Linked DNA regions of Homo sapiens. The protein of the gene in region 1 interacts with the protein of each later gene in a pairwise test. Each region holds a gene or a part of one and is shown on either strand. Other genes may lie near its edges.

Region 1 (3,500 bases):
GTGGCGGTGGCCCCAACAAATGATCTGGCCCTTTTTTTACCTGGCTGCTGTGGGTGGAGGGCAGGAAACGCCTATGCTGGCCTTTTATACCAGGTGGAGAGGGTTCTACAACCCCTGTTGCCCCAGCTGGCTGAGGCCTGCCTTCTCCCCACCCCTGGCCTTGGTGCTATGTCTGTTTTGGGGTGTCCCAAGCCTGAGGGGGCAGCTTGAAGTCATCGAAGGAGTAGGGATCCTGGAGCCAGCTGATTCAGGGTTGAAATCCTGGCTTTGTCACATTCCTGCTGTGTGACCTTGGTGAGTTCACCTAACCTCTCTGAACCCGCAGTCTCCTCTTCTTTAAAATGGGACCTCAGGGTTGCTTGAGAATTAGTAATATAAAGTAATAAAGTAAATAAAGTACTAAAGTAAATAAGGAGCGGGCTGCTCCTGCAAATCTTGTTTTTTTTCCATTCACCTGCCTTGGTTTTTGTTCTTTTTCTGTCCCTCTCTGGGTCTTACTGAAGAACTACTGCTTGGGGGTGAGGAGCAGGGTTTTCTTTTGGAGAGAGGGGGAACTAAGTTTGAATAATCATGGATGGCCTGAAGGAGAACTCTGGGGGTGGGGGTACCCTTAGAAGGAGACCAAGGGCCGGACTCCCAGTTGGAGCCAGCAGGACTTAAGCCAGATGAGAGGAAGCACATTCTAGGGTCCGTGGTGCTGAGTTTCTGGGGGCTGGTTCTCCAGAGCTGTTGAGCAGCCTGCAGTCCATCCTGCATGATGACTCTTCAGGCCCTTCCACTCCTGGAACTCCAGAGAGGCCTTGTTATTTGCAGCTTGAGCCCAGGACTTGGTGAGACTGGGTGCTTTCCATTTTCCTCCCAGCCAGGGAGCATCTCGGCTGTGTTCTGTCTGTCACATGGGCCCTGGCCCAGAGTAGGTGACTATTGATGTTTACGCAGGATCTCAGGGGTGGAGAGTCCTAGAGAGATGGCCAGCCCTACAGCCTGACATCCCACAGCTGATGGCCCAGCCACAGCCTGGGGCCTTGCCAATGGATTGGGGCTGGCTCTCCAGCCTTAGATGGTCCCACTGAGCCTCCCACCACTCTTGAGGGGCTGGTGGGATTCCCCTTATTTAGAGGAAGGCTCAGAGATGTTAGGCCACCTGCCAAAGCACACACAGCCAGGAGCTGGTGGAGCCTGGTGTTCATTTGCCCCTTCTCCTACCCTGGAGCCCCATCTGATCTTGTCGTCACATCCCCTACTTAGCCAGGGTTTTCTGGGGGTGCAGCTGGGACTGGGGATAACACTGACTTGGGCCTTCATCCTGCTTTTGGATGGGCCATGGGCTTCCAGGGTGCTGTCTGGTGCTGCTTCACCCTGGGGTTAGCCTTGGCCCAGGCGACCCTAGAGATTCCTGTACCCCCTGCACTGCCAGCTAGGACCCCCCCATCCATCCTGCCCTCCCCCATCCCTGCCTGCCAGCCCAGACTTTAATGAGGGTAATTTAGAATCAATCACCAGCGGGATCTGGGAAATCTAATTGCAGCAAACTGATTGCCAATTCGATTGCGGGCACCAGGGGGCTGTGGGCGGCTCATTAGACCTGTCCCCCTCCCTGGGCTGGGGCTTGGGGGTGCTCCGTGGGGGATGCAGGGCCTGAGTAGGCAAGGCTCCTGGAGAGCTGGGGGGAGGTGGACTGTTGTTTTGGGAGCAGGGGAAGGGCATTTTTACCTGACAGAAGCCATACACTATTCCCTGTCCAGGCCCACAGTTGGGGTATAGGTGCCTGTGTCAGTCTTTACCCTCTGTCATCCACCCCTTGCTTAATGCCCCCTCCTCAAGGCCTGGATGCCATTGTTGGGGGGTGTCTGCAGCTGCATCTTACCTGGTTCCTGCCTTCAAGATGCTCCCTGTGTCAGGGAGACAGACACAAGCACAGATGATGACGAGGAAGATGATGAGAAAGATAACGGCCAATACTTACTGCTGCATGTCATGTGCTAGGTGTGGTTCTAAGTGCTTAACATGCTTTATCTCAGTGGGTCCTCACTATGGCCCTGTGAGGCAGGCATGGTTACCCCATTTTACAGATGGGGGCACAGAGGCCCTGAGAGGTTGAGCAATGTGCCCACAGTGGGGCAGTTAGCAGGACTCTGAGCCTGGAGCCTGGGTGCTTATGGAGATGCTCGTTCAAGAGCGTGGGGAAAAGAAAGGGCGATCAGACTGTTACTGTGTCTATGTAGAAAAGGAAGACATAAGAAACTCCATTTTGATCTCTTTCTTTTCCCCACACAAGGGCATCAGGCAGACGTGTGGGCTCCTGCATGGGCGCCTGTCTTGATTGACTGCGTTGCTCACTCAGCAGACATTTACTAAGCACCTGCTGTATATGAAGCCCTGTGCAAGGGGGCTGTCAGTGTTCAGTTGTGTCGTGTGTGTCCTATGTCTTGTCTGGCCATGTCTTGCTTCAGGCAGGTTTACTGGTGGCAGGTGCATGTGCTTTTGTGAGGTCTCGAGGGGGGAATTGAAGAGAAGCAGGGAGGAAGCCCTACCCCTCCTCCCTGACAGGCTGAGCCCCAGCTCTGCCATTAGAAGTGGGTGGATTTTGGCTGGGCGAGGTAGCTCACGCCTGTAATCCCAGCACTTTGGGAGGCCAAGGCGGGTGGATCATGAGGTCAGGAGTTCAAGACCCACCTGGCCAAGATGGTGAAACTCCATCTCTACTAAAGACACAAAAATTAGCCAGGCGGTGGCAGGTGCCTGTAATCCCAGCTTCTTGGGTGGCTGAGGCAGAGAATTGCTTGAACCCGGGAGGCGGAGGTTGCAGTGAGCCGAGATCGCATCACTGCACTCTCGCCTGGGTGACAGAGCGCGACTGTCTCAAAAACAACAAGGCAGGCTTGGTGACTCATGCCTGTAATCCCAACACTTTGGGAGGCCGAGGCGAGCAGATCACAAGGTCAGGAGTTCGAGACCAGCCTGACCAACATGGTGAAACCCCATCTCTACTAAAAATACAAAAATTAGCTGGGCATGGTGGTGCACACCTGTAATCCCAGCTACTCCAGAGGCTGAGGCAGGAGAATTGCTTGATCCTGGGAGGTGGAGGTTGCAGTGAACTGAGATTGTGCCACTGCACTCCAGCCTGGGCAACAGAGCGAGACTCCATCTCAAACAACAACAACGAAACGAAGAAGTGGGTGGATTTGGCTAAGTGACTCTTGACTCAGCCTTAGTCTCCTCTTCTGTCAGACAGATCCAGTGATCCCTGACCCGTTAGGTGGTGGTGAGGAGTGGTGGGAGGTGCAGATGGTTAAAAGGAACCTGCTGCTGGGTGATGACTTTTAATTATTATACATTCCCCAAGGTGGTTGTGTCTCAGAGGTGAATTTGCCACTAGCTTGTCAAGTGGTAGCAGGCAGCCTGTTCCCTCTCTGGGCCTCCACTTCCACGTCTGTTAAATGGGAAGAGTGAATGGTGACCCAGGGGCCCTTGTAGTCTTCAGATTTGAGGAACTA
Region 2 (3,931 bases), on another chromosome or scaffold:
ACAAAAGACACATTTGATCGCTCGAGAAAATAAACATTTAAAAAACTCAGTGGAAAGAAAGACTCCTAAAATATATCCTGTCCTTTAGGAGCAAAGCTTCGTTAGGACACCGAAGTACTCAGAAATAATAGGCACTTACTCTTCGGTTTACACACACACACACACACACACACACGGATTAGTTTATAAAGTTCCAGGATCCAGACCCGGTTAACACTGAAGTTGCTTTTTAGGGGTCTGCGCGCTCTCGCCTGGCTGCTGGGAAGGAGGGCTGGGAGGCGCTGAAGCGAGGGCAGATCTGAGTGTCTGTAGGAGTTGCTATTCCAAAAAAAATCATTACTCTCTAATTGTTCTGATTTTAGATCAGCAAAGCGTGCCGGGCGGTGGTGGAGAGACTGAGGGCGGACAAGGCGAGAGGGAACGAGCCGTCCACCCTTCGGAGAAGCCTAGGCGCCTTGTAAGTAATTCGCGAACAGTCGGGAGAACAAACAGCCAAGCGGCGCTGCAGTGGCCGCACTTGCGCGCGTCTCAATCCTGGGGGCTCTGCGCGCCCGCCCCAGTCCCTCGCCCCATTGACTCAGTGGCTTCTCCGGGCGCTGCAGCCTCCGCGGGGGGCTTCGAAGGGCCGAGGGGCTCCGGCAGAGAGGGAGTGGAGAGGGAGACGCGCCGGGACCGACGAACAATCCTGCCCCTGCGGCAAAGGTCTCTACCCGGCGCTGGCACCTCGCAGGCCCCTCGAGGAGCACGCAGGGCAAGCGGCCCAAGAGCGGGGGAACCGGGAAGTGTGTGGGGCTCCAGACGGAGTAGGAAGCTTTGCCCAAGGCCAGGCTGCAATCAGGCAGCCGCAACAGCCGGGCGCGGAGCTTCCCACCTGCTGCTGTCCCAGCTGGGCCGCAACTTCCTCCTCCCCGGCCCGGGCCCGACTCCCCGGCCGGGCTCCGAGGGTGGAGGGGGACGAGGCGGCGGCAGGTTCCCTCCGCTGGCAACGCCTCGCAGCATCCTCCCCTCCCCGCCGCGGTTCCCGGGGCCGGCCGCGCGGCCAGGCGCGCTGCGATTGGCCGGCAGCGGCCGGGGGCGGGGCCAGGAGAGCCGGTGTCGCACGGACCGCCTCAAAAGAGCCCAGGATATTGCAGAGCGCACTGGAGCCCTGGCCAGCGCGCAGCCTTCCCGGCGCCGGCGGGCTGGGTCTTGGGAATTCTGGTTTGCTTTGGCTCACTCGCTTTTTACAAACCACTGGATCTTACATGCCTCTGTACCCCCCACTTCCACTCCATGTCCCCATGCTCCTGCGCCAGCAACAGGTAAGGGCTGCTGTGTTTTCTTCCTTTTCGCTCGCTGCCGGTGTGTCCTGGGGAATGGACTCTGGCCGCCGTCCCCTACCCTACCCTGCCCCGCTGCTCCAGAGGTGCCCAGCTGTCACACTGCTGTAGCGCTCACCCACACTCCGGAGTCCCAGATCATGCCTATATAGTTTGTGTGCGCACCAGAACATCCCCAGAGCTAAAAATACTGAGACATGCTTGGAACAGTTGAGCAATAGAAACAGATTTCTCTGCAGCATCTGTTTGTGCTCATAACTTCCAATGCACCAGCTGTAGCGAGATACTGGGTTTGGAGGCAAGGGCGAGAGCGTCTGTGTTCGGTTCTCACTCTAAGTGGGGAAAAAAAGAAAGAAAACGTGGTTGCGGGTTTGGGGGTGCGTCTTGAGCCCTGGTCTTAAACCTTGGCAAAGCTTGGGACTCAGCACTATTCTTGATCCTTGGCTTTTTTTTTTTTTCGTCATTGCTTCAAGTATAGCTGTGAGTTTCAAACAGAGTGAGTGTCTCAAAGTTGCCTTCCTGAAAGAAGAGCGGGAGCCCGAGTTGGATTTGAGCCTGAGGATCGCAAAACTTTCACATTACATATCACTCTCCCCTAACCAATTTGTTATTTTCAGTAATAATGGTATTAATACCTGGCTTGAAGACAGTGTGGTTTTAGGAAAGCAAAATAGTCAAAACGACTTGATTCTGCAAAAAGATTGCATCATAGCGTGGATTCATCATGACAATTGGAAAAAAAATAGGGATAGGGAATGGGCAGTTTAATGTCTGTGTCTGGGTAAGGATATCATAGGATGATCACTAGGATAAAAGGCTGTGAATTCCGACGATTTTCATAAATTCAGATTTTACCTGTTAGGAAATAAGGTGTTATTTGAAAACCTCGGATATGCAAAGAAACCATATTGCGTTTTATCATTTGTTTTCTTTTCACATTAATAATCAATAGGCTGCCAGATTTCCTCTCGCCAACCAATGTTGTGTGTCTGCTGTACATTATCTGTACACTTGTTAGCGTTTTCCTGCTCACTTCCAAATGTTTCATTTCTATTTGCCATTATCTGGAAAAATCCTGGTGCTCAGAAGGGGTAAGAGATGTTAATTGAAGCATGGTGGAAAGGGTGAGGATAAGGTCAAGGCCATTTTACTTAGCTTCCTCCTCTCTCATATTTTAATGACACTTTATTTTTTAATGTTCTTGGTCTCCATAAGAAATATTTGATCTAAACTCATGTGAATTTTGCTTTTAAAAAAAATAAAAGAACACAGTCTTTCTACATCCTTTGGATTCCTGAGTTGTAGAATCTCTGGTTAGCTGTAGCGTCCTTGTATGACTTTTGCGTAGCCTGAAAGATTGAAAACAGCTACCTGCACAGATTAAGTGTTTCAGATTTTTTTAAGTGTATATTTTTATTTACCAAACATGTCTGTTTTTCAGCGTATGCAAATGCTGAGCAGTGCTACAAGCCAAGTGTCGTTGAGTATAAATGTTAGACAGGGGGCTCACACGTAGATAGATGGGTATCCCCCTCCCCTCCCCACTTCCCCCTCCTCCTCCCTCATGTTTATTGAGCTTCTAAGAGGCTGCTTTCCTAGCAGTTGTGCTCACATAGCAACATGTGCCCAGAGCACACTCAGGCTGTTCTATATGGCGTCAGCTGGGGAATAGCTGCTCTAAACACTCATTAGCAGACCTCTCTCTCAGCCCAGTACGTTTTCTTTTGCTATCTTTATTTCCTATCCTTAGAAACTTTCTTATTTATTGCACACCATGACCATATTACAGGACACATTTACTCTCATTTGATTTTTTTTTTTAGTTATTTATAAGCCATATTGGAAGTATTACCTATATAGTCAAAGCAATTTAGATCCCCCATTTGTACCATGTGATCTCCTTGACCTTACATTTATCCATAGCTCTTTCTCCTTTAACATCTACCTAAGTTTAAAACGCTGAACTATTTTTTTCCATTGCTTATGCTTAATTTTGGCTCAGCCTATAAATAGTCTTAACATGAACAGCACCACATGTAACCTCTCAATTTCCCAAAAATACTTTCTACATCATGGGTTATGGCCTGGATAAAAATGATTATTTGTGTCCATGAAATTTACATCTAGACCCTTAAATATTTTGGCTGGAAGGGAGATTTACACATTGTTCATCAAATCAAATTTCAATTCTCTGGATTTGTATCACTTAGTGTTCTCATCTACTCCTCATTGATTGCATCTCAAACATTATTTTGAATATATGCTTGAAATAAAGTTGCATGTAAGCCCTGTTTTTTTAATGATAGCTTTTCTCAGCTGCTCACGAATTGGTAATTGCTAGTGAGAGGACCGGGCAAGGAAGTTTTCTGCTTGCTTAAAGTCGCTCAGGCATGTGGGCAGGTTAACAGTAAAAGCAATTTTTACCATGAAATATTAAGACCGTTACCCCATCAAACCTTGACAGGTTCTAGACTTTAGCTATGTAATCAGCTCCACAAAAAGTCTGCATACATATATGTGTGTGCACCTGCATACACACATAAATCTGTTTGGGGGCATATCTATTTAAAGTGGCAAAAGTTTTCTTTTTGCCAAAAAAAAAAAAAAAAAAA

What was found. The genes of interacting proteins can lie anywhere in the genome.
Region 2: the proteins of SDC3 (region 1) and KCNJ2 interact in a two-hybrid assay, tested with the Homo sapiens proteins (one large-scale study listed by BioGRID).

Annotation. Positions count from the first base shown.
Region 1 is NC_000001.11:30,898,759-30,902,258, reverse strand, and holds part of SDC3 (syndecan-3), read left to right. Parts: intron 1-3,500. UniProt on the Homo sapiens protein: Cell surface proteoglycan that may bear heparan sulfate. May have a role in the organization of cell shape by affecting the actin cytoskeleton, possibly by transferring signals from the cell surface in a sugar-dependent mechanism.
Region 2 is NC_000017.11:70,168,401-70,172,331, forward strand, and holds the start of KCNJ2 (inward rectifier potassium channel 2), read left to right. Parts: upstream 1-1,131; 5' UTR 1,132-1,301; intron 1,302-3,931.